Linked DNA regions of Homo sapiens. The protein of the gene in region 2 purifies or fractionates together with the protein of the main gene of each other region. This does not show direct contact. Each region holds a gene or a part of one and is shown on either strand. Other genes may lie near its edges. The genes, in order: PKP1, FSTL1, HEPHL1 and COL14A1.

Evidence for each region.
Region 1: the proteins of FSTL1 (region 2) and PKP1 purify together in Homo sapiens (affinity purification with mass spectrometry; one large-scale study listed by BioGRID and IntAct). This does not show direct contact.
Region 3: the proteins of FSTL1 (region 2) and HEPHL1 purify together in Homo sapiens (affinity purification with mass spectrometry; one large-scale study listed by BioGRID and IntAct). This does not show direct contact.
Region 4: the proteins of FSTL1 (region 2) and COL14A1 purify together in Homo sapiens (affinity purification with mass spectrometry; one large-scale study listed by BioGRID and IntAct). This does not show direct contact.

The regions. Positions count from the first base shown.
Region 1 is NC_000001.11:201,320,689-201,328,505, forward strand, and holds part of PKP1 (plakophilin-1), read left to right. Parts: intron 1-1,289; coding exon 1,290-1,445; intron 1,446-2,324; coding exon 2,325-2,501; intron 2,502-3,739; coding exon 3,740-3,893; intron 3,894-4,252; coding exon 4,253-4,439; intron 4,440-5,065; coding exon 5,066-5,150; intron 5,151-7,817. UniProt on the Homo sapiens protein: A component of desmosome cell-cell junctions which are required for positive regulation of cellular adhesion.
Region 2 is NC_000003.12:120,399,940-120,407,756, reverse strand, and holds part of FSTL1 (follistatin-related protein 1 precursor), read left to right. Parts: intron 1-2,785; coding exon 2,786-2,904; intron 2,905-4,402; coding exon 4,403-4,515; intron 4,516-4,838; coding exon 4,839-4,949; intron 4,950-7,797; coding exon 7,798-7,817.
Region 3 is NC_000011.10:94,063,460-94,071,276, forward strand, and holds part of HEPHL1 (ferroxidase HEPHL1 precursor), read left to right. Parts: intron 1-48; coding exon 49-261; intron 262-871; coding exon 872-1,051; intron 1,052-3,511; exon of another isoform or gene 3,512-3,836; intron 3,837-3,975; exon of another isoform or gene 3,976-4,036; coding exon 4,037-4,291; intron 4,292-6,914; coding exon 6,915-7,083; intron 7,084-7,817. UniProt on the Homo sapiens protein: Is a copper-binding glycoprotein with ferroxidase activity. It oxidizes Fe(2+) to Fe(3+) without releasing radical oxygen species. May be involved in the regulation of intracellular iron content.
Region 4 is NC_000008.11:120,272,853-120,280,669, reverse strand, and holds part of COL14A1 (collagen alpha-1(XIV) chain isoform 1 precursor), read right to left. Parts: intron 3,186-7,817; coding exon of another isoform or gene 3,171-3,185; exon of another isoform or gene 2,738-3,170; intron 2,560-2,737; coding exon 2,436-2,559; intron 2,236-2,435; coding exon 2,092-2,235; intron 736-2,091; coding exon 571-735; intron 1-570. UniProt on the Homo sapiens protein: Plays an adhesive role by integrating collagen bundles. It is probably associated with the surface of interstitial collagen fibrils via COL1.

The DNA.
Region 1 (7,817 bases), on a different chromosome or scaffold from region 2:
AAGGCTTGATTAGTTAATAAGCAAAACACGAAGAGGGCCTGGCACAGAGGAAGCTCCCAGCGAGCATCTGCTGGCTGTGCTTCATTGGTGGTGCTGAGGCCTGTCCTGTGACCCCGAGCCCTGCCCCACAGCCCAGAGGAATCCATACTGGTGCCCCCAGGGCTTAGTGTCCCCCCTGAGATGAGGCTCCTTCTGCCACTGCTATCTTCCCACTGCCTCCCAGAAAAGCCATTGGCAGTCATCTTGCTGCCCTCTCTGGACTTCTGGACACACAGCACAGACAAACAGAAAGAAAAAAAGTTGTGGAGGGCAGATAAACAGAAGGCTGAGATGTTCCCACCATGGCAGGACAGTGGCTCAGGAGATAGTGAGGCCCAGCAGGCTCCAGATCGCCAGGGAACGGGCTGACATCACAGCACCTGGGTTCTCAGCACAGTTGCCGTAAGGAGGGATTTTATCTCCTGCTCCCTCCACTGGAAGCAACAGCAGGGCCACAGAGGAGAGCCTTGTCACTGGGCTGCTCAGCCTGCTTCCAAAGGGCAAGATGCTTTTCTGCTCTGTGTGCAATATCTCCAACACCTGTGTAACCCCAAGCCCTGGAAGTCAGATTCCCTTAGACCCCAGCAAGGGCCAAACATCATTAGGAGGGTAAATCTGCTGCCCCCAAACCCTAGTCCTTTGGAGGTTTGCCAAAGGAGATTGACAAAGATCTGAGCCCAGCTGCCATGATGAAGCCCTGGGCTCCAGGTGTTGCTGTGTTTTGTGTGGACTTAGCACCGCTGACATTGACAGCTAAGGACTGGCCCCAGGAAGAAAGAATGATGGGGGCACTAGATGGCTTTGGAATCTAGAGGCATGGGGCTTCTTCTGGAGGAGTTTGTTCTGGAAAAAAAAAAAGACACATTCTTCAATATCCCAGTCTGCCCATTGGCATGTTGTCCATAGCAGTCCTACCACACACTAGGCCCTGTGATAAGTGCTTTCTCTGTATCATCTTCCAAATAGCCTAGTGAAATGGACAATTGTAGTCTCATTTTACATTTGAGATAGCTGAGGCCCAGAGAAGTGAGGCCAGTCAAGTTCATGCAGCCAGGAAATGACAGATTCAAACTCAGGTCCCAGAGGTGGCCCTGGAAGACTTCCCAGGCTGATAGTGTGGTGGTGCCTGCGCTCATCTTTCCCGATGCAGCCCAGGTGCCTCTGCTCTCTTATTAGCTAGGGTAGGTGGTAGGCCAGGAGCCTGTCGGGCCGGGCAGAGGCTCAGGCCCATGCCTCTCCTTGGTCCCCAGTCTGTGGAAAACTGCATGTGTGTTCTGCACAACCTCTCCTACCGCCTGGACGCCGAGGTGCCCACCCGCTACCGCCAGCTGGAGTATAACGCCCGCAACGCCTACACCGAGAAGTCCTCCACTGGCTGCTTCAGCAACAAGAGCGACAAGATGATGGTGAGCACAGCATCAGCAGGGCGGGGCCTGCCCCATCAAGCACCCCCCCAGGAGCCACTGCCTCATCTGCCCTTTCCTCTGGGCCCTCCTGGAGCCTGAAGCCAGCCCTAAGGGACAGGCCCATGCTGACACCTTGGCCTGGGGCTCAGGGTGCACTCTGGGAGCTGGGTAGAGGCCATTCATCTTGCACAAGGGGGAATCTGTTCTTGGAACTGTAGGGGCTCAGACCACCTTAGAGGTCAAAAACTCCAGCCTTCTGTTTGCAGGCCTTGGTCTTTCTTCCTGTATAGTGGGTCAAGTCTCCCCCATCTTCTCCCTTGCCCTTGAGGATCTGAGGAAAGCCAGAACTCTCACTCTTTCTGGCCTTGGTTCCCACCATCTCCTGAGCCCTGCCAGGTTTCCCCAGAAGCAGAAGCCTACCAGGGATGGGTTGTCAGGTCTCCTTCACTGGGCCCAGCTGTGGAATCCAGGTCTCAGACCACCCTCTTTGGCCCAGGGTGGGTCAAACCTACTGTCTGAGTCTGGAAGAGGAGGAAGCATCATGATGGGAGAGTCCAAAGCAGCCCCACATATCTGGAAGGTTTGGGCCAAGGCTGCCCTGGAACACAGCTCCCAAGATGCCAGGATGCTCTCTTCTCCCACATCCTGGGACAGTCTGGGGGACCATGGCCCATTCCTGCATCCCATGGAGCTGCTGCAGTGCATAGAGGAAAGGGGTGCAGCGGGGCTGTCCTGGGCCCCCTGCCTCTGCAGGCGCTTCCTCAGCTTGCCCTATCTGGAACCACGACCCTGAGGCTGGGGGGATGGGGACAGAATGCCTGGGTTGTGTCCTCTCACAAGGCTCCCCATTGACCCCCCTGACCGGCTCTTTATCCTCAGAACAACAACTATGACTGCCCCCTGCCTGAGGAAGAGACCAACCCCAAGGGCAGCGGCTGGTTGTACCATTCAGATGCCATCCGCACCTACCTGAACCTCATGGGCAAGAGCAAGAAAGATGCTACCCTGGAGGCCTGTGCTGGTGCCCTGCAGAACCTGACAGCCAGCAAGGGGCTGGTGAGTGGGACTGTACCTTCTCTACTGCAGCAGCCCCATCCTCCAGCCACCGTCCAGCCTCTGCTCCCTCCTTTTCCCCCCAGCCTGTCCCCTGACTTCGGAGCCTCCCATGAGCAGAGTGTGCCTGGCATATGCTGGGCTCTGGGCTGGGCAATGGGGAAACACTCCTGCCCTTTAGGAGCTGCTGGGGGATGCAGAGAGGGTGGGCCCACTGATGCTGGATTCTGTCCATGCACACACAATCCCCTTGGCCACATGGCTCCCGGTCCCCAGCTGGCCTCCTGGGCTCTGCTTGAGGTCGGGGAATGCGGCGGAGAAGGTGTTTGGCAAAAGGAGTTTCCCATTTGTTGAACTGACAAAGGTGGAAAAAGAGGGTTTGGGGTCCAAGCAGGTCCAGAGAAGATGTGACAGAATCCGTGCAGATGTTGAGGCCAAATGTATGTAGCTTGGAGGGCACAGTGGTATGGGGCAGAGCCAGAGGAAACCTGTTGCAATCAAGAAGAGTTGAGATGGGCCAGGCGGCCAACTGTTCTTCAGCTTTACTTAGGAAAAGGGAACCGAGCAGCAGCAGCACTAGAGTAGACCGAGGGCAGAGAACTTCCCTGGCTGTGAGGAGAGAGGCTGGGCAGTTCTGAGAATGCCAAACCCACCTAGACCTGTTACACCCAGGATAGCTATGTTGCTTAGAGGCCTGGGCGAACTGGCCTACCTCTAGGGGACCCCAGTTCTCTCTCCATGTGGGCCCAGACCCTTTCTTAGCCCTCTTTTCTCAGGCAAGCCCTCAACAAATATGTGTTGGATTCTAAAGAGGTAGGAAAGTTGGAAGAAGATGGCCAGATGTTTAATTGACAAATACCCTTGACCATATAGTTTCACATGGGCAGATAGCGTGGGGAGATGTAATGGGGGCAGCGCTGAGACAGTGGGGTGAGAGAGCAGCATTGGACGCTTGGGTTACTCTGGAAGCTAACTCTGGGTCACTATGAGTAGGGGAAATGAGACTTCCCTCTCTCCACCCATCTGGGCTGCAGGCTGATCCAGGAGACAGGATCAGGGCTGGGAAAGGGGAGGTGCATGTTAGCCTAGGTTTCTGTAGTTGCCCACATGTGAGCTAGTGCTTCCAATATGAAAGAGAAAGGGTTCTGGGATGTCTGCCTTTGGGGCTCCTTGCCCCTTTCTGCCTGCCATGGTGCCTGGGAAGCCACAGGCTAGCTCATCATCTACTCCTTCTCTCTTAGATGTCCAGTGGCATGAGCCAGTTGATTGGGCTGAAGGAAAAGGGCCTGCCACAAATTGCCCGCCTCCTGCAATCTGGCAACTCTGATGTGGTGCGGTCCGGAGCCTCCCTCCTGAGCAACATGTCCCGCCACCCTCTGCTGCACAGAGTGATGGGTAAGGTCCCTCTCTCTCCTCCCCCTCTAGCTAAGACATGGCAGGCTCCCTACAATTCAAGCCTGCTTGAAGGTCATCCTTTAAGCCATTCCCTGGGATGAGCATTCCAAGAAAGGAAGCTGGCCAAAGACAGGTATGGAGACAGGAGAAGGGAGCCTGTCACCTGAGGGCTGGGAGCAGATCTGCAAAAGTCCTATCTGGGTCTCTGAGCCCTGAGTTGGAGCTGCCAGGAAGCCCTGAGGGCCACCTGGCTCAGAGCCCGGCAGAAGGCTATCGAAGAGTGTGGCCCCAGAGGGAACCCCTCAGCCCTTCCTTCCCCAGTCATCCTGACCCTGTGCCCCAACTCGTTCCTCTCCCAGGGAACCAGGTGTTCCCGGAGGTGACCAGGCTCCTCACCAGCCACACTGGCAATACCAGCAACTCCGAAGACATCTTGTCCTCGGCCTGCTACACTGTGAGGAACCTGATGGCCTCGCAGCCACAACTGGCCAAGCAGTACTTCTCCAGCAGCATGCTCAACAACATCATCAACCTGTGCCGAAGCAGGTGGGCGGGGGGTTGCTCCCACGGGCTGCACCCCAATCAGAGCCCCTCCTCACCCTGCACAGCAGGAAGCAGTCCCGCAGCTCTCCATGGAGTAGGGGAAGCACCAAGGGCAGGGGGAGCCAGGGACGGGGGAGGCTTGAATGGAGGAGAAGTTCCAGAAGCCGAGAGTGCGTGGAGAGAAGGGTCCAGCATCCAGGCCCCAGGGCTGCATGGAGGGAAGAGGCAACACACTTCCTGGCTGGGGGACTCGGGGGCACAAGGTCCTCAGAGGGCCAGCAGGAGGCATGGGGCAGCAGGTCCAACTGAATAGGGACTTTATCCTGCTCTGTGGGGCTCTCTCTTCCCCGGACAAGGCTGGGGACTGGAGTGGAAGAGCACTGCCACCTCATGGCCCCTGAGGAGAGTCCTGGGGTGCTCTAGGTGGGCAGGGGCATGGGGTTGTGCCCACTGGGTAGGGTGACCAGGCTCACCACACCCCAATGGGGCTCCTCTCTTTTGCACACCTGAGGCCTCCTCTGAGGCCTCCCCTGTGTCCAGGCCCTGGCAGTGGGGGTGGGAGGGAAGAGGGTGCTCCTTCTCACACCTCCTGGAATCTCATCTCACAAATGCACTTCTCACCTGCCCAGTGCCTCACCCAAGGCCGCAGAAGCTGCCCGGCTTCTCCTGTCTGACATGTGGTCCAGCAAGGAACTGCAGGGTGTCCTCAGACAGGTAAGAGCCCAGGACATCATCCTCTTCTGAGGTTCTTCCTGCTCATGAGCAGAGGGCCTGGCATATGCTGGGCTCTGGGCTGGGCACTAGAGAAACGCCCCTGCCCTTCGGGACAGTCTGAGAGACAAAGACAGCGTCTACGTGAAAATGAATGTGATGAACGTTCTGATCAAGTCTCTGGGCTCTGAGATCTGCGAGGGATGCTGAGAACATGGAGGGCAGAGGAAATCAAGGAAATGTGTGAGAGGCCTGGGGTGGGATCCTTTAGGAGCAAACTGAAAAACAGAGTGGACAAAAAGCACACAAGTCTTTTGAGGGCATGGGGTTCACTCCAGCTAGAAAAGTAGGTGTGGGCTAGGTTACAAAACCCTTCTAATGTCAAACTGAAGAGCTTGGACTTGTACCTTTGGCACTGGGGAACCATTCAAAGTTTTGAATAGAGGGTTTCATGATCAAAGCAGCACCAAAGCTCACCCTGTGAGCAAGGCAGAGTGGGCTGAGAAGCCTGGAGGCTGCTGTCCTTGTCCTGTGGTGACCTTGGCCTCCTCTCTGTCCTCCACCCCTCCCCAGCTAGCCAGGTACAGAGTCCTCTAGGGTATAAGGTCTTGTTGTATGACATCTTCACATGGCCTCTTCTTTCCCATTCCTCAGTGATAAGCATGGACATAAAGGACAGGAGGTGGAAGAAATGGAGCAGTGGGGCTGATTAGGCTGGAGCTTTTAGCTTGGAGACTATGGTTATATTCATAAAGACACATCAGATGAGGAGAGCCTGAGAAGGCTTTTAGGTGGGAGTAAGAGGGGTCCCAATTTGGAGAGGTTGAGTTTGGAAGACTTGGATGGGAGTCCAGGCTGGAGGTGGTGTGGGCCCTGGCAGAGGGGCCAGAGCTACCATACAGAGTGGAGCTTTGTTCAGGCAGGCGAAGCCATGAGAACAGGCAAGACCACCATGGGTTGCATGTGTATGGAAAAGTCTTGAAGGACAGGGCAGAAATATGAAGACCATCTGCTGGGGACAAGAAGGAGGAAAGGCCAGGGAAAAGAGGAACTGTGCAGGGTGCCAGAAGGGGCTGAAGACCTGGTAAGAAGAGAAAGCTCTAAGGAAGGCAGGGCAGCAGTTCCCAGGGCTACCTAGAGGACCAGGGGATGGACACTGGAAAAGGCCCTGGATCCGGTGCTTCGGAAGTCTCTGGAGCCGTCCAGGAGCACTGCTGGCCAAGCAAGGGGAGCCCCATGGGGCCTGCTGCAGTGGGCAAGGCAGTGGATGGGGATGGATGGGGAGTTGCTGAGAGGAGATGCTGCTCCCTGCAATTTAGCCTGCAGAAAAAGGAGCAAAACAGTGGGTAAAAAGAGATCTGTTTAAAGACAGAGGAGACTCAAGCATCTCTGTCATGGGAGGAGAGGGAGTAGGCAAAGAAGGGAGAAAGACAGGGATGGAGGACAGGGAAGCCTGGGGATTGGTTGAGCAGCGTGGGGCAGAAGGAAGCCCAGCTCTTCCTCCAGCATGGCAGGGGACAATAGGGAGACTCATGAACGCACGGTGTCCAAAGATGATTGGGGAAATCTGAAGGTCACAGCAAAGGGTGGCCCTTGTTCTCCATGTGACAATCCAGAGCTCCTTTCCAACAGCACTGCATTGAAGATGGGCTTGGCAAATGGCAACTGCCAGATAGACAAAGGGAGACGAGGAGGCAGGTAAGGAGGACTGGTGTGAGCTTCCTCCCGCTGTGTAATGGTGGTCCAAAGCATTCAGCTTACCCCAAAACACAGAGTCCACCCCCGGCCTAAGACACACAGAGAATCCACTGACATCGCTCTCGGTGGGAATTCCCTTCTACACATGCCTTTGGGAACCAGCGTCCCCATTCAGTCTCCACTCCTCCTTCCAGCTATGCTTGACAACCATCCTGGGCATGATCTAGTTGGTGCGTCTGTTCCCAAAGGGCCTTCACATCCATCATGCATTGAGTTGTCACAAGCACAGGTGAGACAGGCCACATGGCTTGTGTCCATTTTGCTGAATAGGGAATCAGGGTCCAAGGAGTTTGTCTTGATTCAGTGAGTCAGGGCATGAGCCATGCTCGACAGGAATGAGCATGCCAATCTGCAGAAGAAAAATGGCATCATGTAATACATGCCCAAAGACAGGAGGGGCAGGGCTTCGAACCGGCTGCTGTTTCGGATCCCCTATGCCATCTCCCCTCCTGTTCCCACAGGTCGGTGATGGCTGGCTTGGCTCTCAGAGCTCAGGGCTGGCAGCAGGACCCTCTTTTCAAGGGCACCTTGGCCTATTGCTGCATTCAAATCATGCTGTCCACATTCACTTGGAAGCATGTATTGGGCACCTGCTGTATGCTGGGAGAAATAACAGGAATAAGACTCACTCTCCATCCAGCAGGCACTCAGGGGCTAGTGGGGCTGGAGGTGAAGAACAGACAAGTAAACAGAACCTTCTAGCACAGCGGCTTCTTACCAGTGCGAGCCCCCTGCTCCTGTGTTTGAGAAACAATGGGCATGTCCTCTCTGCCCAAGAGCTCTTGTCAGAATTGTTTAAAAAAAGAAAAGATAGAGGTGGTCAGAGGGAAGAACAATTGACAGCTTCTCTAATCTGATTTTGATTGTTGCTCTGTTTAAAAAATAATACTAGCCTAAATCCTCACGCCTTGA
Region 2 (7,817 bases):
GTCTAACAGGAGAAAACAGGTTTCATTTTCTACTTTTTGATGATTATCAGAGTCTTACATGCTGCTGTCTTCAAAGGGAGACTGCCTCCTCCTAGGTCAGCAGCTGCCTGTTGGTGAGAGGTCTGATATCTCAAAGAGACTGTTATGAACCAATGAAATGCTCCCCAGCCCAGCTGGCATTTCTTACATCAAAATTGTTCAAAAACCAAATTGAATTAGAATTTGAATAAGGCCAAAATCTGACTTTCACCATAACCAGTGATGTAGTCACTGTTTCTTAGGTGAAAGCGTAACAGAATGAAGAAAGAAAGACCCAGGTAGAAAGAGCCTTCCATGCTCTTGGAATTTGGAATCTAATCCATTCCTAATTTCATCTGGGTGTGATCTCAATCCCTGTGGCTCCTGATGGCCAGGGCTGACACTTGAGCCAGCCTTCTTATCTCCTTTACCCTGGCACCACAGCCCACACAGCCCCAGCTGCTGTGCACAAGCAAGTGCCTGTCTCAGCCCATCTCCTCTGAAGAGTCTCCAAACTTACATTGATAAGCCCCAAGAACAGATCTCATGACATACATCTTTTCTGCCTTTCCACAACCCTACAGTTAGATAGAGGAAAAGTTTTGTTACCTCAAATGCTGAAATCTGAAACTTTTTGAGCACCAACATGATGCCATAAGTGGAAAATTTCACACCTGAATTCATGTGATGGGTAGCATTCAAAACACAGTCAAAACTTTGTTTCATGCACAAAATGATTTAAACTATTGTATAAAATTACCTTCAGGCTATATGTGTAAGGTATATAGGAAACAGGGATGAATTTCATGTTTACATTTGGATCCCATCCCCAAGATATCTCATTATACATATTTAAACTTTCCAAAATCTGAAATCTGAAACACTTCTGGTCCCAAGCATTTCAGATAAGGGATAATCAACCTGTATAGAGCTGGGGAAAGAGGCACAGAGAGATATTATGTCTTTGTAACTGACTGGCTGAAGAGAGGCTCAATAAATTAGGTTGGTTCATGGTCCATGATTAGGACCTCACAGGCAGACCCCCCAGGCATTCCAGGCTATTTCTGGGGCAGGCACCAGAATTCTGTGTTCCTGTGGATTCTACATACAACTCTGGCCTGGGGAGGCCCAACTGGACCCTCATGAGTTGAGAAAGCACATGGGCTGGACCTTCCCCCAGCTGCAGGCCTTATTCTAGTCCTACTGAAGTGTGTGTACACAGCACTGCCTTTTGAGAGCTGCCTGGACTGTGGTTGCCAGGTTCATGGTGCCCACTTGGGCCATGTGGCACTGGGTCTGTAGCTAGTGCTGGACGTTTCCCCTCCCTACACTCATTCCATCATCAGGCCCTGATGACACTGGAGTCTTTGAGGGTTGCTGTCATTTACCCAGCACATGCAATATTTGAACTCAAGAAAGCCCTGTGCTACTAACAATGGCCCCCAGCCAAACTTATTTAATTATTTTCCATTAATTAATCAAGACTTCACAAGGTAAACAGGGAAGTTTCGTCAGGGAAAATTGTATAGTGAATAAAGGACATCAGAGACCTGTTCCTAGGAATTAGGACAAGAATGATAAGTACGTACTAAGCAAAGGCCTAATAGTTGTTTCATGCACACCTTCATTATACAACATTAGAGTGGAACACCTGTGACACATGGCAAGCAGGAGAGGAGAGTTGTTAGCTACATCTTCCCCTTCTATCTAGAAATTTGGATAGATGTTTCTTCCAGAATCCCTTGCACCATCTGGGGAGCCATCTTGAAAGTAACATGGGGAAGCTGATCCTTTCCCAGGGCAGCAGCATGAGGGAGCCTAGGGAAAGGATTTGGGAGGAAGGGGGAAAATGTTATTGAAATTTGTTAGGAGAGCAGCCATATGCAACTTGGAATTTGATCAGTCTTGATTTGACACCCTCCTCCTGCAGCTAGTGCCTGGGTGTCTTGAATGGTCCCAGATGGCTGAGGTCTCAGTTTAGCATCTTGCCATAGAGAACAGTGTGTGAGCTTACTGCACTCCTCACTTTGTGCTTGTGGGATGCCAGCTGGGTCATGAGGGCAGCCTGAGCTGGATGATCTGAGGACCTGTGCACACATCTGCAGTGGGGCCCACAGGGCAGAGGAGCGGGAACTTTGCATGATGACCCCTGTCTGTAGCTTATTGCTTTGAGGCCTTTGCCTGAGTTCTCACTGATGTGATCAGTTACGGGCACCAAAGTGAAAGTTAAGCACTGAGAACAGGACAAGGAGGCTGGAATCAAGCAACAAGATTTGGAATCCTATAATTCCAAAGTGAGCTCAGAGGGTCATCTGCATTGCTGCTGTTCCTGAGCAGCTCATTAGAAACATATTCTGGGACCTGCTACAGAGATTCTGATTCACAGCGTGCAACTTTAAACTCTTGTTACATGTTCATCAGGGCTTGAGAACATGATGTGCAGGTTGGTCTGAACCCAAAGGTATAGTCAAAAGTGTCTACAGGGCAGTGTCAGAGATGGGGCCACACAGCATGCTTAGGGACCCCAGAGGCCTCAGTTCAGGTTGCCTCCTCTGCCCAGGCACTTTTCCTCTCTCATTGTGGGCACAGGTACCTTCTCTGCATGTCCCAGGGATTAGAGCATTTGTTGCCAAGGCCCTCTGAGGTCAGGGCAGGGTTGGAATGTATCAAGAACAAGATGAATCAGAGGCAGGTCAGCTGAGTGGAGTAATGATGGAACAGGGGTTCTGCAAAACATCCCTGAACGATCTTGTCATGCCCTTTCTAGAACTTTGATAATGGTGATTCTCGCCTGGACTCCAGTGAATTCCTGAAGTTTGTGGAACAGAATGAAACTGCCATCAATATTACAACGTATCCAGACCAGGAGAACAACAAGTTGCTTAGGTGAGAGGAACCGAGAGGTCAGAGAATGATCCACAAGGGAAGACTAACTGAGAGAGGGGACTTAAACCCTTTCCCACCTGCAAAAGAGCCACCAGTGAGAGAATGTCACGTAAAAAGCAAAATGGGAATTCTGTCCTGTTCTATTCTATGAAAGTATGAATTAATATATTGAGTACCACTGATATCTAATCAAATAGTTATTGTTTTTGGTCAGAACTTGCAAGGACTAGAAGAATATAATTTTAAAATAAATTGCCAAGGGCACGTCAGAGCAAGTTATTTCTGAATGTTGTGGGTGATGTTTTACTGATTAATTTTCTGAAGGAATTACAGTAATGTATTATTTAACTATAGGTCTAAAATAGCTTTGTTCTGATTTTTAGATAATTAGTGCTATTTCATGTCAATTGCCCTAACTGTTACAGATATATGCCCGTCTACTTTTATGGCATTATTCCAGAATCAATATTAATAAAAACTAATCGCTAAGAAACTTTTGATGTGGTTTCAGCACATCGGTAAGAATTAAAAATAGGAAAAGCATGTCTTTTTTTCAAAAGAAGTGCATTGCACAGTTTCTAGAAGGATTCTTCTTTAATAATAGTCTATGACCTTAAAGTATAGGTTCTGTAAATCCTTCATATTTTGATAATCTGAAATTATATGTTTTATAATTTCAACGTTTGAGCCTCATGATATCCCAGTGAAGGAGGGCTTCTTGTCCTCCTTTTACGGATGGGAAGACAGGCTCAGAAAAGTTGAATAACTAACTCAAGTCCATTTGAGTAGTAAGTGATTGAGCCAGGGCTCAAATACAGCCCAAGAAAGAAGTGATGGAGCTGAGTTTTTTTTTGTTTGTTTTGTTTTTTGTTTTTTTTTGTTTTTGTTTTTGTTTTGTTTTGTTTTTGTTTTTTTTTTTTTTTTTTTTTTTTGAGACGGAGTCTCGCTCTGTCGCCCAGGCTGGAGTGCAGTGGCGGGATCTCGGCTCACTGCAAGCTGATGGAGCTGAGTTCTAAAAGCTTTTCTGAAAATCTCTTTCTAGAAGGATGATAATGGTGATTCTTGCTTGAACTTCATATTCTTTCAAATCCTATATTCCTTTCATGTCATCTGTCATATCTCTTCTGTTTTGATTTTCCTAGTTTGGTTGACTTGACGTGTATATACCATGGGGAAAAGCAATTGCTAGTGGAAGGTATGCAGGCAGTGAAAACATTAGACAAAACCATTCACGAAACTTTAGTCATCTTAAGGGGGGGAACATTTGGACAGCCTGGGTGATCTGACATTCATATAACAAACTAAAGGTTAGATGCCTGCATTGGTCAGGATGGATAATAGTTGTGTTGGGTCAGTGTAGAGAGAGGCTGTTTTAGTTAGCAGTCATCTTCTTGGCCTCCTGTGGAGGCCCTGGGTGTATGTGGTCCTGATGCTTACTTCCTTTCTTCTGAGCGAAGCTGAGGTCTTGCTAACACATTTCTCCTGTGTTTTGTTTCAGGGGACTCTGTGTTGATGCTCTCATTGAACTGTCTGATGAAAATGCTGATTGGAAACTCAGCTTCCAAGAGTTTCTCAAGTGCCTCAACCCATCTTTCAACCCTCCTGAGAAGAGTATGCCTAACCTAAGAAATAGAGAGCTGTAGTGAATGGAGGCATTTTGTAGGAGCCAAGATAGAGAGGATTGGTGGAACTCTCCAGAGCTAGCTGAGAAAATCCCCTTCCATGATTCTAAACTGGGCCCCAGCCCATTCTCCCCATGGTGAAGTTAGGGCCCCACATTCTTTAGGTTGATGGTAGTGTTTGCTCAGATATAGTGCTTCTGAGGGACAGGCAGGTCTTGTCTGGGAAAAAAGGGTAAGGTGCACAGACTGTAGCAAAGATGCCCTGTTCCACCCTCACAGCTAAACTGTTGCCCCGTATTTCTGGCCCAACAGAGTGTGCCCTGGAGGATGAAACGTATGCAGATGGAGCTGAGACCGAGGTGGACTGTAACCGCTGTGTCTGTGCCTGTGGAAATTGGGTCTGTACAGCCATGACCTGTGACGGTGAGCTGTGCTTCAAGCAGAAAGAAAAAACAGCAAGGAGAGAGCTTCATGAAATCAGCATGAGAGAAGTTGGGGTGGGGATGATGGAGAAGAGGGCGGTGGCTGGGAGCAAGGAACCCAGGCAGACCCACACCTGTAAGGTTGGAGCCCCAAGTGGGGAGCTTTGAGGGCAGAACATTTATCCCATAGGCATTCAGTTTGAAAATCACTCCAGAGGCTTGGAATAAGAGAGGACCAAGACCCTGGGCAAAAGTAAATGATAATGGAATAGTAACATTATGGAAATAGTAACAGTGAAAGTAGTAATAATGGAATAATAATTAAAAATAGTAATTATTTAATAATTAAAACATTAAAATAAAAACAATAATTATTATTTAATAATAATCAAAAATAATAATGGAATAGTAACAGTGAAAGCAAATACTCAGCAAAAACCATGTGCCAGGCTCTCTTCTAAGCACTTTACATATTAACCCATTGATCCTTATAACACCTTAGGAAATGGTAAAAGACTAGTGGTTGGAAGACAAAATGACTTCTCCTTGCCATACCCAGCAGAAAAAGAAAATATGTTTGTAGACCCTCTTTCAACTAACAGAGATGGGTAATCTTTTTTAAAAAGAGAAAGTTGAGCTAGTTGAGATATGTGCAGGGTGGTCTGGGGAGACAGAGAAATCTGAGAGTTTGTGGGGCAGTGTGAGGCTACAGGGTATGTTGGAACCACTGGAGTCCCATCTGGGTCCTGGGCTACAATGATGCCAAAGATCAAGAGGGACTCTTAAAGCCGAGCCCTAGCAAAGAACCAGGGATATTCAGAGTGGAGGCAAGACAGAGAAGGGTGTTGAAGCCAGGTCTGCAACGGAGAATTGCCTTAAGGTCATTTGGAACCAGGCCGAAAAGTTTCACCAGCTAGGGTGAACCTAAAGTTATATCAGCCAGGCGCAGTGGCTTATGCCTATAATCCCAACACTTGGGGAGGCCAAAGTGGGAAGCCCAGGAGTTCAAGACCAGCCTTGCCAACATAGCGAGACCATGTCCCTACAAAAATGTGAAAATTAGGCAGGCGTGATGGCACGTGCCTGTAGTCCCAGCTACTTGGGAGGCTGAAGTGGGAGGATCACCTGAGCCTGGGAGGTTGAGGCTGCCATGAGCCATAGTCACGCCACTGCATTCTAGCCTGGACAACAGAGCAAGACCTTGTCTTAAAAAAAAAAAAAAAGTTTATTTTAAGAAGTTAACTGTGTCAAGGAAGAGCTGGCTGGAACCTAAGATAATGTTCAGGAAGATCAGGTTAAATGGTAACTAGGAGACAGAGGTCAGAAACCCAGGATGAGGCTCTTCTAGACAAGGATCCTAGAGAACAGCAACAGTATAAATGGCCCAGTACTATCTAAGGTATCACTGGTCTACCGCTGCCCAGGACCAAGTCTGTTTTCAGTGTGGAACGACAGCAAACCAATGTAACTACAGGGACAGGTGAAGGAACAGGAAGAGGCTGTTTAGAGACTAGAAATTCCTACAAGTTCCTAGAAGTCAAGACCAAGCCAGGATCTCCAGACCAAACACAGAGTTGCTACTGAAACCAACAAAACACATCTCAAAACAGTCAGTGGCCTAGCCTGCCTCAACCATGAAGCATCCTATACTTGTCTTCCCTAAACTCCCTTCAGTACCTCTCCGCTTCTAACTGCTGCTGTTCTGGCTTTGTAAAGGTAGCCCTCCATTTCTAAGGTGCAGGCAGTTGGTATGCAGTTGGCTTATAGAATAAGCATGGTCATTTGGATAATAATCTCTATCACATGCATCAGACAAAATTCAAATGATCAGCTTCATGGGATGTTGCCCATTTCCACAGCCACTCAGCTATGGGCTGCTCATCCTCCCTGGATGACCAAGTCCAGAACTCTATGTGGGTATAACATGGAGCAACCCATGTTAGATGGTGGTGCCCCAGGGGCCTGAGCACGTATGGATGTGTAGGCCGTGGATCTAAGAGGAGTTTGTGGAGCCAGCATTCTGGGGCATTTTCAGGTTAATACCTGAGAGTTAGCAGTCTGATCTTAGATCACAAATCAAAATGGGACAAGCAAGAAGGGGCATCAAAATTTGAAGCCAGGAGGAGGCAGAGCCAAGGGAAACTGCTGTGAAGGGAAGGTTGATAGCAATGTTTGGAAGATATGTCCTAGAAGTGTTTCCTAATGGTCAGCATTCTACTTGATAAGCCTAGAGATTTCATCCTAAACCTAGTAAATCAGAATTTGCAAAAGAGCAGCTTGGGAACCTGTGTAGTTTTTGTTTTTGTTTATCACTGTGCAAGTTTCAGAAACATTGCTAGATGAAATGGTTGTCAACCCTGGCTGCACATTAGAACCAACTAGAAAGACTTGTAAAAAAATACTGGTGTCCAGATCTCACCTCACATCAATTAAATCAGAATCTCTGAAGGTGGAACTAGACAGCTATCTTTTCAAATGTTCTCCAGGACATTTTGATGGTATATGAATGACTTGAGAGTCATTGTCTCAGAGAAATCTCCAGTGTCAGGATCCAAGTTTTCACCATAACTTTTTTTGTAGGGCCAGCTTCTGGCTGGGATGTGCTAAGCAGTTAAAGGAACAAAGGCCAGAGAGGAGTTGGGGTAGATTGCTTTGTTACAATGTGTTACCTTGGAGGTATCAATTACACAGGGCCCCTTCATGCCTTCATACTCAGAAAATGTGGGTAATTCACCTCTCCTTCCACAAGTTAAATGGGAGATGAATTGAGAGCCTCTAGGTAGATCTTGGCGGATTCCTCACTGGCTTACCACAGCTGCTACTGCTCTGAGCTTTGGTTCTTCTTGCAGGAAAGAATCAGAAGGGGGCC
Region 3 (7,817 bases), on a different chromosome or scaffold from region 2:
CTGTTTTAACTATGTTTTACCTTTTTTTTTAATTTTATTTTTTGGAAGGAGCCCTATACCCAGATGGAACATCTGGAAGGAACAAAAATGATGACATGGTTCCTCCTGGGAAAAACTACACCTACGTCTGGCCGGTGAGAGAAGAATATGCACCTACTCCAGCCGATGCCAACTGCCTGACCTGGGTGTACCATTCGCACATCGACGCCCCAAAGGACATCTGCTCTGGGCTAATTGGGCCCCTGCTGGTCTGCAAGGAAGGTAAGGAGCTTTGTTTCCAGGTAACTAGGGAGTTGAAATGTGAATAAGATTCAGGTCTTATTTTGCCTACCTCCTTTGCTCCACACAGAATGTGCCTCTTCCAAATTTCTTTAGAAATTCTGACATGGAAGATCAATCTGACACCATAGCAGAGGGCAATAATTCAGATTTTTGTCTAAGAATCATCACAGCATTCTGAGACTTTATTGTTATTTTAAAAAATGATATTTCATAACACAATGTATAGAAAAGTGAGAAATTTAGTCAAATGACCAGTAATGCCTTCTGCTTCATTATTTCACCCAAATAATCATTTGCTATTTTATCCCTTATTAGTTGACTTAGCATGTCTGTAGTTTGTCAATAAAATGGACTCCCTTTAGAGACAGCCAGTCTTCCAAGTATGTGATTATGAAGATTTCTGTTTTATGACTTTTCTCTTCTATGGCTCTGTCATCTCCATTAAAGCCTTTTGCTGATTTTATATGGTGGGTTATCCTTGTAGGTATAGGTCTTCACCAAACTTCACACTTGCCTGACACTATTGGAAGGAAGCAAAGCTCATCTTGATTTAGTTCTTTCTCTCTACTCTTTTGAATGTGCCTGACAGGTATCCTGAATAGATATTCAGGGACACGGAATGATGTGGATCGAGAGTTTGTTATAATGTTTACTCTTGTGGATGAGAATCAAAGCTGGTACCTCAATGAAAATATCAAACATTTCTGCACCAACCCTGATTCAGTTGACAAGAAAGATGCTGTTTTCCAGAGGAGTAACAAAATGCATGGTGAGTACCTCCCATGTTCCCAAACGTATACCAGGCCTTTTATACTATAAGGTACTACAAGGGATAAAAAATACACAGAAATGTTGATCTGAGTTTGGCATGATTTATAACTCAGGGATGACCATGGTTAGAAAGTGATACAATACATGACACATGTTTGAACCTGAAACAATCTGAGGGGGACAGAGCAGTGGATGCATGCTAAATTGGGCATGCAGTGTGGACAAAGCCACAGGGCTTTGGGAAAATGGAGGGATCGATGTTATATTGTAATTGGAAAAGAATCGGTGCCTGAGGTGAGCCCAGAGCATGGGTGGGCTTAGACTGACTGGAAGGAGAAAGGAGAATGAAATCATCGTTCTATAATAATCCTGTGTTTTGCAACATTTTGCTTCATCCAGTAACCATTTTCTGAGCCGCTGATAAATTTTAAGAACTGAGTTATGCATGGGGTTTAAATAAGCACTTGTGAATTCATTATATTTCCCAGGCATTCTTTACATCAACAAAATTTACTGAGCATGCACTATACATCAGACTCCATATTTGTTCAAAATAGTGAACTTCTATAGTTACTTCATTAGTTGAGATGGGGCACTTACTCATGCCTGTTTTGCAAAGCAGTAGCTTAATGTAGCATTTTAGGATTTTCTTAGAGAGTTCTAGTGAACATAAAGGAAATAGTCAACCTACATATCCCACCTTATTCATTGACATATCTTCTCCTTCTATTGCTTCTCTGTCTCTCAGAATTGTTCTAACCAAGGTATCCTCAATATAGTCATAAAATCATAAGAGGAATAGAAGGAGCTGAAGATCATCTAACGTCTCCATTTTACAGAAGAGAAACTGAGGTCAAGAGACTATCAATGACTTGCCTAAGGTCAAAGTGATAATTAATGCCAGAGAGTTTCCTGAGAGAAGTCCCATAGCAAATAAATGTAAATTTGGCTGTGTTTGATTCCTAGGCACATCAAGGCATGATTGTCAGTACATTGATTATTTCCATTGTATTGCATGCCTTCTTTTTTCCTTCTAGTGGTATTTTGGCAACCTTATGTGTAGTGATTCTTGGAAAATATTTTAGGAGGAAAGGAAGTAAGGGAGAGAAGGAAAGGGGAAGGCAGGGAGGCAGAGAAAACAATGAAGGATGGAGTCAATGAAGACATAAATTCAAATCATTGCTGTGACCAGTTGTAATGCATATCCTTTACAAAATGGGAGTGATGATCTCAAATATTGCAGAAAACTACTAATTGTGATTACTTAAGACTCACCTGCCCAAATAATTCCTCTTACTCTGTATTTATTCTTTTGAAGTGAAAATGTCCAACAAAATGAAATGAATTACATAAGCAAACATAGATTACATGTATCATAAAAAGAAGCCTGTCCAGGCACAATGGCTCATGCCTATAATCCCAGCACTTTGAGAAGCAGGTGTGGGAGGATTGCTTGAGGCCAGAAGTTCAAAACCAGCCTGGGCAACATAGGTAGATCCGTTATCTACAAAAAATTCAAACAAACAACAAAAAAAATCAGCTGGGCATAGTGGCACATGCCTGTGGTCCCACCTACTTGTGATGCTGAGGTCAGAGGATTGCATTAGCCCGGGAGTTTGAGGCTGCAGTGAACTAAGTGCCACTGCACCCCAGCCTGGGTGACAGAGCAAGACCCTGTCTCAAAAAACAAAAACAAAAAACCCTAGCCTGTATGCTGAAGTAGATGTGTGTTTGCAAACAATCCTTCAAGACTGGAAAAGGGTGGGGTATTGTGGCACACGCCTGTAATCCCAGCACTTTGGGAGGCCAAGGTGGGAGGATCACTTGAGGCCAGGAGTTCAAGACCAGCCTGGCCAACATGGCAAAACCTGTCTCTACTAAAAATACAAAAATTAGCTGGTCATGGTGGTGGGCACCTGTAATCTCAGCTACTGGGGAGGCTGAGGCACAAGAATCTTTTGAACCCAGGAGACAGAGGTTGCAGTGAGCTGAGATTGTGCCACTGCACTTCAGCCTGGGTGTGACAGAGCGAGACTCCATCTCAAAAGAAAAAAAAGAGAGAGAGACTGGAAAAAGAGACCTAATCAAGTAAAGGAAAAAATTTAATTAAAAAAATCTAGACTATGGAAGATAATTAATATGTACAAGTTTTATTGATCAATTTATTTAAATTTACTAAAATAATTTAGAATTAATTGTGCTGCCTAAGTCATCAGGCATTTCAGCAACAATTGCTTTTAACTCAGTTCGAACTTAAGAAGGGATATTGTGACTTTTTAAAGCCCTGAATCAAGTTCTTTTCTGAACTTGGTCAACTCCCAGCTGCCATTTAGATGGTTTTAAAGTATTCGGTCCTGGATTTACGCCATAAACTTAATAAGATTCTGCTCCAGCAACATGTAGTAAAAACTGTTTTTCTCTTGGCTTTTTAAAGTAAACAAACAAACAAACAAAACAGTTCTCATAAATTCCTTTTAATCAATTCCTTTTCTTTCCATCTTACTACATGCTTTTGTCACTTCATTAAGTAGATACTATGTGCCAGTTTTTCTGCTAGGTCCTGATAACTGTTAAGATGAACAAGACAGGGTTTCTAGTTCCAAGGAGCACAGAATCTGGTGAAGACAGCAGATATGCCAGTGAAGGATTATGACAGAAGGTGACTGAGCCTCCTGTAAATATGAGCAGCACTCTGTTTTCTCCTGACCTCATATTGCGTTCCCACAGCAGCTCCGAGGCTGTTCTCAGTGTATGCTGATCTTCACTTTTATTGAGTGTTTTCTCTGGAAAAAGGCCAATAAAAACATTTCATTTCTCTTTTGGACAATATATATTTCTAAGAGCCAGGTTTTTCTGCACCAAAACCTTACAACCAATGGTCTGCACTGGTTTTCCAGCCATGCTTAAGCCCGTATTACCAACATTTCTGGTCCCAGTCGCCTCTGCAGGGGAGTCTCTTCCACTAGCGTGTTTCTGTTTCCAGCCCTCAATGGATACCTCTTCGGAAACTTCCCGGAGCCTGATATGTGTGTTGGAGAATCTGTGTCCTGGCACCTATTTGGAATGGGGAATGAAATAGACATCCATTCTATCTATTTCTATGGTAACACCTTCATCAGCAGAGGGCATCGGACTGATGTCGTCAACCTGTTCCCAGCCACCTTCCTTACAACAGAAATGATAGCCGAGAATCCTGGGAAGTGGATGATAACCTGCCAGGTCAGCGACCACCTACAAGGTAAAAAGGATAAAGACCAGAGTTGATATGTTTAGAATGGTACAATCAAACCACACAGTCACTAGTGCTCATCCAGTACCTACTGTTAGATAGAGCCTTGTATGTACTATATTTAATTAGGTAATAAATATACAGGAAAATATAACGCTCATCTCTTTGATATTCTATCAACAGATATTTATTGACCACTTCTGTATGAAAAAAGTGGGGAAGTGATTAAAAATTGATGAGACCTTCGAGGAACCTGTAGTATAGTTGTTAGACATAGTTAGACATTCACAAAATGAATACGATTTAAGGCAGAATGAGATAAATGCTCTTTGGGTGTTGCAGTCACTACTCTGGAGCAATCAGAGGGGCTTCCTGAGGAGCTGGCTCCTAACATGAGCCTTGAAATATGAGTAGGAACTGAATAGATGAAGAAGGAAAGAAAGACTTTTGAGGAAGCAGCATGAACTGGGAAAAACACATGTTCTTTTTGAGCAACTGTAAGTAGAGTAATAAGGTTTTAGCACTGGAAAGGACTTTCTGGATAATAAGGACCAATCCCCCCTCGAATTATTTAATTTCGTTTTGAACATCTCTTGTGAGTAGTTATAGCAGCTCATCTCATCTCTGGACTGCTCTATTGGAATGTTCTTCCTCAAATTGAGACAAAATCCATTGACCTATAGCTTCCTTCATGTCCTATGATAGGTGCATGATAAACATTTGTTGGCTTAAATGCCTGTTGAATGACCTGGTCCTGGTTTCTTCAGACATCATACACTATGTCCTTTCTTAGCTGGACCATAATGTTCCTTACAGAGAAGTGATGACAGAAGAGCCTGGGAGGCTCATCAGGCCCCTTAGCAAAGCTAAGGAGGTGGGGCTGTGTGATCCTTAGCTCTTTTGGCACACTAGTGACATAATCGGTGCAGTTATTTAAGAAGATAAATGTATGCATGCAAGAAGGACTTGATGGAGGAATTCTGACCACTGGATGCTAGTTAAGAAGCATTTGACAGTGTTAGAGGTCTAACACCTAAACGTCTGCCCTAAGATGATGAAACCAAGACAGAAAAAATATGTTAATGGAATAGACACAGAAGAAATAATGTCTGATATTTGGATACTAACTTCCCATAGTCACTAATAGGTGCAAAGATCCAGCTGCTCAGGGCTGCTTTTGTAACACATTCTTGTTCCTGTCCACCTTCCACAGTGAGTCATAGCATTAGTCAACTGCAGTATCCCAATTACATTCAACTGAAAAATTAATCAGTTAATATGTACTAGATGCTCTTCTGGGAAAACAAAGATTAACAAGAGAAGGTTTCTATTCTCAAAGAGTCTTATGCTGTTAAATCTGGGAAGAAACTGTAGATTTAAAATCAAGATATTAGCTGCCATTTGAGACTAGTAAGATCGCTAAATTAGCCCGATAGTTGTGGACATAAGCTAGTATTTATACGTTCCCTGAAATACAGTATTTCTAAATTGTCCATGCCTTCAGAAAAAAGTTATTGTAAAAAAATTAGAAAATACATATAATTGGAGGTTTTTTAACAAATAGAGACAGGGTCTTGCTATGTTGCCCAGGCTGGTCTCAAACTCCTGGGCCCAAGCAATCCTCCCACCTTAGCCTTTCAAAGTGCTGGGATTATAGGCATGAGCCACTGGATCTGGCCCCTATAAATTGGTTTTAAAATCAGTAGTTCCATAATAGAAATATTTTATATTCACATTTTGGTGAATATCTTCCCTATTTTCTATTTCTTAATATGTAAATATATATGTATTTTAAAAAATGAAATCAGTCTATTAATGCTGCACTGTAGCTAATTTTTCTCATTTACAAATATATCAGAAACACATTTTCATGTCGGTGAATATAGAGCTTACTTCATCATGGTTAATACTTCCAGTGTCCATTATAAGGAGATTACATCTTGCTTAATCAATACTCTATTGCTTAATGCTTATGTTTCCCACCAATTTTTTTGCTATTATAAACAGCACTGATGACTATTATTTATAGATGTTTGCACTTTTGTCTGAACATTTTCTTAGAAAAACTCCTAGATTTAGAATTTCTGGGTCAAAGAGTATGATTTTTTTAAAAAAGCTATGGACATACATTGCCACATTCTCTTTTGGAAATTGTTATTCTTCTACACGAAGTGTATGAGTATGGCTCTTTCCCCATTCATCTACCAACACTGAGAATTATTAGTCTTTCTAATCTTTACTAATCTGATCAATGAACAATAGTATCATTTGAAAACTGTTAAGGTTTGAGTACTATTTGAGTACTGTTAAGGTTGAACCTCTTTTTCATTTGTTTATTGGCCAATATTATTTATTTTGTGAATAAACTATTTCTGTTCCTTGCTCATTTTCTATTGGAGATTTACTTGTTTTCATCTTTATCTGTAAAAGTGATTTACGTATTAATCTTTTGTCATATGTGTCACAAATATCCCTCCTGTTGCCATTTATCCTTTTTAAAAAAACTTTCTTTATGGTCCAATTTTCTGTACAGAAGCCTAAATGTTCAAGAGCCAAATCTATCAGTCTTTTCCTATATGATTCCTTTTGTGATCATTTATGCCTCAGCTCGTGGTTTTCCTCTGTTCTGCAGCTGGTATGCTGGGGCAATACAATGTTGATAACTGCAAAAGTGATATTTTCTACCCCAAGATGAAGGGTCAACAGAGGCGCTACTTTATAGCAGCTGAAAAAATTCTTTGGGATTATGCTCCTCAAGGCTATAACAAATTCAGTGGTCTTCCTCTAAACGCCTCTGGCAGGTAAGCACCCTTTGTTGGTGTTTCTAAGCCTCTCGTCAGAGAAGCATGTGTTAGGCTTTCTCTGTGATCTAATTTGTATTCCAACCACTGCTCTGATGAGCTTATACTGCATAGATGGCATAATGTAGCTGCTTAAGGTGTTCTTAATACTGCAAAAGCACTGCTGAGAACTGGTAGAATATTTTTTGTTTTGTGACTTGACGGCTGAATCAAAACACTAGATCATTCACTCATTGATCAAACATTTCTTGAGTAGGCACTATGTGCAAACTATAGTGCAAAGTGCCATTAGAAATACTAAGCTGACAAAGAATAGAGTAAGGCCTTTACACATATGGAGCAGACAGTCTTGAAGAGGGAATGACAGGAGATGGAGATGACCTGGCCTAAGAGGGTTACCCTTTTTGGTTCAAGGATATCCTGATTTAAGTTGTGTCCCCTTTATGTCCTACAAATATTCTTTTCCTTTCTATTCAGTAAAATGCCATTTTTCTTTCAAAGCCTTACTCTAATGTCACCTCTGAAGTGAAACCTTTGACTCTTGATATAAATGAATTATGTTCTCTCTGCGCTCCCATAGAATATACTATTTAAAAAATTAATCTAGCAATTTATTAGGTGGATCTGGACTCCTGTGACTTGTTAGTATATAATCATATGCAAAGTTGTCTGTGAAGATACTAAAAAATGTACAGTGTGATATCAAGAATCCTTTTTTATATTTAAGGGAATGT
Region 4 (7,817 bases), on a different chromosome or scaffold from region 2:
TTTCACAAACATACTCTTTCCCTGTCCTGAGAACAGGAAACTAATACAATCTTTCCAGAAGTTGATTGTGGAGAGAATACAAATCAAATGTGACTATGGTTTTCTGTGGTTTCATGAAGATTGAAATGTGCTAAGGTCCCTTATTACAACTAAAGGACCACAGCTTCCTTCTCTCCTGGGTTCATTAAAATCAGTGGTTATCACCTGAGAGCATGTATTGGGGCACATCTCCCTTGTAATATGTTGCCCAGATGAGAATTCTTAATACATTTTACATCTTAATACATTCTTAATACATTGAAAATTATTTACTACATCTGTTTAAGCACAGTTGCTTTTAAACATAGACTGTCATCTGATTAGGGAAGGTTTTTATCATTCTAAACTCTAAACAGAGGAGGGGAGGTTTATTTCCATATGCTCAAAGCCACAAAACTTAATGTCTATATAACAAGCAGTACTGGAAGTCAATATTCTTTTCTCAGATCTAGATCGGACTCACTATTTAACCAGTGTCAAATATTTCAGCTGTTAAGCAACATGAGTAAGTACAAATTCCAAAGAACTAACTTGCTGATGCTGTTTCGCAGACAAAAGTAATTAACTCATCTTCGATTTTCTTAAAGGCGTCAAAGTCATCCACAAAGAAGACATGGCGTGCGCTGGGCTTACTGCCAATGCTAACCAACTCCGAGTAATCTGCATCGGCCACACCAATTGCAAAAATGCTATAGCCTGTGGCAGACAGAGAACAGATTTCCGATTACTTTAAATTGTACAAAACACAAATAATGTAATATAAGACACATCCAACTGTTTAAAATATGTTTATTTAGGAAGGCCCATGGGGGTGGATAATTCATTCTTTACAGTTCATCAGAGTTCTGCATGTATATATTTCATTATGTGATAATGATTCCATCATCCCCTAAAGAGATTTTCCATTTTAAAGAAACCCAAGAAGACCAAGGCCCCAAATTGTGCCTGAGACGAAGTAGTTTGCATTTGAGTAATATCTCTATGGTTGCATATTCTTAAAAGTTACTTTTAACATTTATGGTATGAAATATACTTGAAACAGAGACACTGAGCTTATCTCAGTTTTTTTTTTTTTTTTCAGAAGTAGAAGCTGAGACATTAATAGGCCTAGCAACCTAAGGTGGGCCACCATTCAATGCTTGGCAAGTAAATAGAACTACTATTTGCCATAACTTATGTAATTTAATCTTCACAGCAGTCCTGTGAGAATCTCTATTTTACAGATTAAGAGGCTGAGGAATTTCTGTAATAAGGTTCCTTCCCTGGTCCATATATATATATATACATTCAATCAATATTTTTTCTTTTTTACACAATTTTACTTTAAATTCTGGGATACACGTGCTGAAGATGCAGGTTTTTTACATAGGTATACGTGTGCCATGGTGGTTTACTGCACCTATCAACCTGTCATCTAGGTTTTAAGCCCTGCATGCATTAGGTATTTGTCTTAATGCTCTCCCTCCCTTGCCCCCCACCCCCGACAGGCCCCCGTGTGTGATGTTCCCCTCCCTGTGTCCATGTGTTCTCATTGTTCAGCTCCCACTTATGAGTGAGAACATGTGGTGTTTAGTTTTCTGTTCCTGTGTTAGTTTGCTGAGGATGATGGTTTCCAGCTTCATCCATTTCCCTGCAAAGGACATGAACTCATTCTTTTTTATGGCTGCATAGTATTCCATGGCTTATATGTGCCACATTTTCTTTATCCAGTCTGTCATCGATGGACATTTGGGTATGATTAAGAGGCTGAGGAGTTTCTGTAATAAGATTCTTTCCCTGGTCCTTTTCTTACAGTACTTAATTGCTAGAGTTCCATATAAAGGGCATCCTGTATGTAACAAAAGTGTTAGAGAAAATAACCTATTTTCTCTAACAAAGCAGTACAATTACAGATTTGTATACCAGAAAGTATTTTAAAAATTACACTGTCTAGTTAATATGAAGAAATATTTTAAAACATTTAAGTAATGCTGATATAGCCTATAAATTTGTATTTAGAAAATAACAATTCTAACATCATATTTGGTAGCCACTATTGTTTATATATCTTACCATCTAATTGCATCTCCCTGGAGATTTTGTTCACATCATCTTGTGATCTTCCATCAGTTATAACCACGATAACCTTTGGGATGCCCCTTCTTGTACCTGACTCTGCAGTGAACAAGGTATCTCGAACATACTTAATTGCTTTTCCTGAAACAAAGAAAGGCAACAGTTTGATTTCACTCCCTCCCATTTTTGTTTTTCTGGAGAAGAAAGGGTGGGAACAAAGTTCTTAAATTAATGAAAAAAAAAATCTTTAAAAAATTACTATGCCTTAAAATAAAAGGTCATTTCAGTAGTTACAAATAATGAATTACTTTGAGCCTTAGCTGGGCTTCTTTTGGTCATACCTGTTTTTGTATTTCCTCCTTTGTATGAAATGTGTTTAATTGCATCAAGAAGAGTCTCTTTGGTTTTGTAAGCATTTAGTTTAAATTCTGTTCTGGGATCATCAGTGAACTGAACCATTGCAACCTGGAGAGAGAAGGTGTATTCATTTTCACACATATGTAGACTTCCACTGGGTCAGAGAGCAACAGCACAGTGTCACCTGTAGTTTTAATTTCTTCATTATCTCATTACAAAATCTGCTTGGATTAAAATTTCTTTCATACAAGTTACATACCAAATTTGAAGACAAATTAAATACATCTTTTCTTTTTTAAAAATTTTATTTTAGATTCAGAGGGTACATTGTGTAGGTTTGTTACATGGGTAAACGGCATGTCACTGAGAGGTGGTGTACAAATGATTCTGTCCCCCAGGTAGTGAGCATAGTTCCCAATAGGCAGTTTTTCAACCTTCAGCCTCCTTCTATTCTCCCCCTACTAGTAGCCCCTAGTGTCTATTGTTCCCGTCTTTACGTCCGTGTGTACTCGATGTTTAGCTCCCACTTCTAAGTGAGAGCATGCAGTATTTGGTTTCATGTTTCTGTGTTAATTTGCACAAGATAATGGCTTCCAGAGGCACCCGTGTTGCTGCAAAGAACATGATTTTGTTCTTTTTTATGGCTGCGTAGTATTTCTTGCTGTATGTTCACCACATTTTCTTTACGCAGTCCACCATTGATGGGCATTCCATGTTTGTTACTGTGAATAGTGCTGCAATGAACATAGGAGTGCATGTGTCTCTCAGTACTTTCAGAAAGTAGTTTTTTAAAAATCTTTCAAGCTTGTAGGATTTTTGCCACCTCATTTGACAGTTTAAAAATGGCAGCCTAAGCTTGGTAACTTGACAAATGTCCGAAAATCAGAGTTAGACTCTTTACAAAGATTTCCTTATGAAGCAAACCTATGAAGTAATTACTACTATTCTACTCACTTTACACTTGAGGAAACTGAGCTGCAAAAGACAAGTTACTTGCACATCACAAGAGTGGTCACTGGCAGAGTCAACAGTTGAAGTTAGGTCTATTCTAGGTCAAAATGTATGTTCTTAACCACTACTATACAAAGCTTTCTGGCTTCAGTTCTTACAACTGGCTTTTATTCCTGTGGAACTTTTGGATCATTTTTAATTGTTTTTTATTTGTTTTTCAGAATTATGATTTAATAAGTAAAGATAGCATCTTTCGAGAGCTTTGTTTAAATGGGCCTTAAGCTGCTGCCAGTTTATCAGTCTACTGGACATGTCACCATTTTTATAAAGTCTCCTGCAATTCAAAGGGAACTTGCTTCTTTCTGACATGCCTCAGCATGTTACCTATTCTCCTCTTTTTTAATAACCTAATTTTATTTTATTTTTTTTTATTATTATACTTTAAGTTCTAGGGTACCTGTGCACAATGTGAAGGTTTGTTACATATGTATACATGTGCCATGTTGGTGTGCTGCACCCATTAACTCGTCATTTACATTAGGTATATCTCCTAATGCTATCCCTCCCCCTTACCCCCACCATGCAGCCATAAAAAAGGATGAGTTCATGTCCTTTGAAGGGACATGGATGAAACTGGAAACCAGCATTCTGAGCAAACTATCACAAGGACAGAAAACCAGACACTGCATGTTCTCACTCATAGGTGGGAATTGAACAATGAGAACACTTGGACACAGGGTGGGGAACCTATTTTTATTTACAATACTTTTGGAGTACAAGGGTATTTGGTTACATGGTTGAATTGTATAGTGGCAAGGTTTGAGATTTTAGTGCACCCATCACCCAAGTAGTGTACATTCTATCTAGTATGTAGTTTTTTTATCCTTCATCCACCTTCCACCCTCCCCACTCTGAGTCTCCAAGTCCATTATACCACCCTGTGTTCCTTTGTGTAGCTACAGCTTAGCTCTCGCTTAAAAGTGAGAACATACGGTATTTGATTTTCCATTCCTGAATTACTTCACTTAGAATAATGGCCTCCATTCAAGCTGCTGCAAAGTACATTACTTTGTTCTTTTTTATGGCTGAGTAGTATTCCATGGTGTGTGTTTGTGTAAAATATATATATAATATATTTTTTTACATATATATATAACATTGTCTTTACTCATTGGATGACAGGCACTGAAGTTGGTTCTATATCTTTGCATTTGTGAATTGTGCTAAAATAAACATATGTTTACTGGTGTCTTTTGACATAATGACTTCTTTTCCTTTGGGTAGATAGCCAGTACTGGGATTGCTGGAACCAAAGGTAAATCTACTTTTAGTTCTTTAAGAAATCTCCACACTGTTTTCCATAGAGGTTATACTAAATTACATGCCCACCAGCAGTGTATAAATATTTCCTTTTCACCACATCCACACCGACATCTATTGTTTTTTGACTTATAATAATGGCCATTCTTACAGGGGCAAGGAGGTATCTCATTGTGGTTTTAATCTGCATTTCCATGATGATTAGTGATGTTGAGCATTTTTCCATATGTTTGTGGGCCATTTGTGTATCTTCTTTTGAGAAATGTTTATTCATGCCATTTTCCCATTTTTTGATGAGATATTTGTTTTTTTCTTGCTGATTTGTGTGTGTTTCTTGTAGATTCTGGATATTAGTTCTTTGTCAGATGCATAGTTTGCAAATATTTTCTCCCATTCTTGTGTTTTCTGTTTACTCTGATGATTAGCTGTTCAGAAGGTTTTTAGTTTAATTAGGTACCATTTATTTATTTTTGTTTTTGTTGAATTTGCTTTTGGAGTCTTAGTCATAAATTCCTTGCCAGGTCAATGTCCAGAAGAGTTTTTCGCAGGTTATCTCCTAGAATTTTTATCATTTCAGGTCTTAGATTTAAGGCTTTGATCCATCTTGAGTTGATTTTTGTATAAGGTGAGAGGTAGGGATCCAGTTTCATTCTACATGTGGCTATCCAGTTTTCCCAGTGCCATTTATTAAATAGGGTGTCATTTCCCCAATTTATGTTTTTGAATGTTTTGTCCAAGATCAGTTGGTTGTATGTATTTGACTTTATTTCTGGGTTCTCTCTTCTGTTCCATTAGTTTATGTGCTTATTTTTATATCAGTATCATGCTGTTTTAGTAACTATGGTCTTGTAGTATACTTTGAAGTCAGGTAATGTGATGCCTCCAGATTTTTTTCTTTTTGTTTAGGAGTGCTTTGGCTATTTGGGCTCTTTTTGGGTTCCATATGAATTTCAGGATTTTTTTTCTAATTCTGTGAAAAACGATGTTGATATTTGTATAGGAATTGCATTGAATCTGTAGATTGCTTTGGGAAATATGATCATTTTCATAAGAATTATTTCAATCCATGAGCATGGGATGCTTCCATTTGTTTGTGTCATCTCTGATTTCTCTTAGCAGTGTTTTGTGATTCTTGTTGAAGAGAATTTCCATCTCTTTAGTTAAGTATAATATATGCCTAGGTATGTCTATTTTTTTTGCAGCTATTGTAAAAGTGATTATGTTCTTGATTTGATCCTCAGGCCTTATCTCTTATCTCAGAATTGATCGTTGGTGTATAGCAGTGCTACTGATTTGTATACATTGATTTGTAACCTAAGAGTTTACTGAATTTGTTTATCAAATCTAGGAGTCTTTTGGAGAAGTCTTTAAGTTCTCTAGGTATATGATCATATCATTGGCACACAGTAATAGTTTAACTTCTTCTTTTCCAGTTTGGATGCCCTTTATTATTTTCTCTTGCCTGATTGCTCTGGCTAGGACTTCCAGTACTATCTTGAATAGAAGCGGTGAAAATGAGTATCTTTGTCTTGTTCCAGTTCTCAGAAGGAATGCTATCAACTTTTTTCCATTCAGTATGATTTTGGCTGTGAGGTTGCTATATATAGCATTTATTATTTTGAGGTATGTCCTTTCTATTCCCAATTTGTTGAAAGTATTTATCATAAAGGGATGCTGGATTTTATTGAATGCTTTCTGCATCTATGAGATGAACATATGGTTTTTGTTATTAATTCTGTTTATGTGATGTATCACATTTATTGACTTGTGTATGTTAAGCCCTCTCTGTGTCCCTGGGATGACATCCACCTGATCACAGCGTATTATCTTCTTGATGTGTTGTTGGATTTGTTTAGCTAGTATTTTGTTGATTATTTTTGCGTCTATGTTCACAAGGGATGTTGGCATGTAATTTTCTTTTTCATTATGTCCTCTACTGGTTTTTGTATCAGGTAATACTGGCTTCACAAAAAGATTTAGTGAGAATTCCCCTTCTAATCTTTTAGAATATTAGGTTGGTGCAAAAGTAGTTGTGGTTTGCACCAACCTAATAGTTTCCATACAATTGGTACCAATTCTTCTTTGAATGTCTGGTAGTATTCATCTGTGAATCCATCTGGCCCTGGGCCTTTTTTTTTTTTTGGAAAACTGTTTTAAAATCACTGATGCAATCTCACTGCCTGTTGTTGGTCTGCTCAGGGCTTATTCTTGATTTAATCTAGGGGGGTTGTTGTTTCCAGGAATTTATCCATTTCCTTCAGATTTTGTAGTTTCTATGTATAGAGGTGTTCATAATAGTCTTGAATAATCTTTTGCATTTCTGTGGTGTTGGTTGTAATGTCTCTATTTTCATTTCTAATTGAGACTATTTGAACCTTCTCTCTTTTTTCTTGGTTAAACCAGCTAATGGTCTATCAATTTTGTTTATCTTTTCAAAGAACCAATTTTTTGTTTCATTGATCTTTTTTATTGCTTTTTGTTTCAATTTCATTTAGTTCTGCTCTGATTTTTGTTATTTCTTTTCTTCTGCTAGCTTTGGCTTTGGTTTGTTCTTGTTTCACTAGTTCCTTGAGGTGTGACATTAGGTTGCCAATTTGTGCTTTTTCAGACTTTTTGATGTAGGCATTGAGTGCTATATATTTTCCTCTTAGAACTGCTTTTACTGTATGTCAGAGGTTTTGACAACTTGTGTAAGTATTATCTTTCATTCCAAATAATTTTTAAATTTCCTTCTTGATTTTATTATTAACCCAAAAATCATTCAGGAGCAAATGGTTTAATTTCCAAGTATTTGTATACTTTTGAGGATTCCTTTTGGAGTTGATTTCTAGTTTTATTCCATTGTGGTCTGAGAAGATGCCTGATATGACTTTGATTTTTAAAAATTTATTGAGACTTGTTTTGTGGCCTATCATGGTCTAGCTTGGAAAATGTTCCATATGCTGATGTGAAGAATGTATATTCTGCACTTCTTGTATAGAATCTTCTGTAAATACATGTTAGGTCCATTTGTTCTAGAGTGTAGTTTGAGACCATTGCTTCTTTGTTGATTCTCTGTCTTGATTATCTGTCTAGTGCTGCTAGTGGAGTGTTAA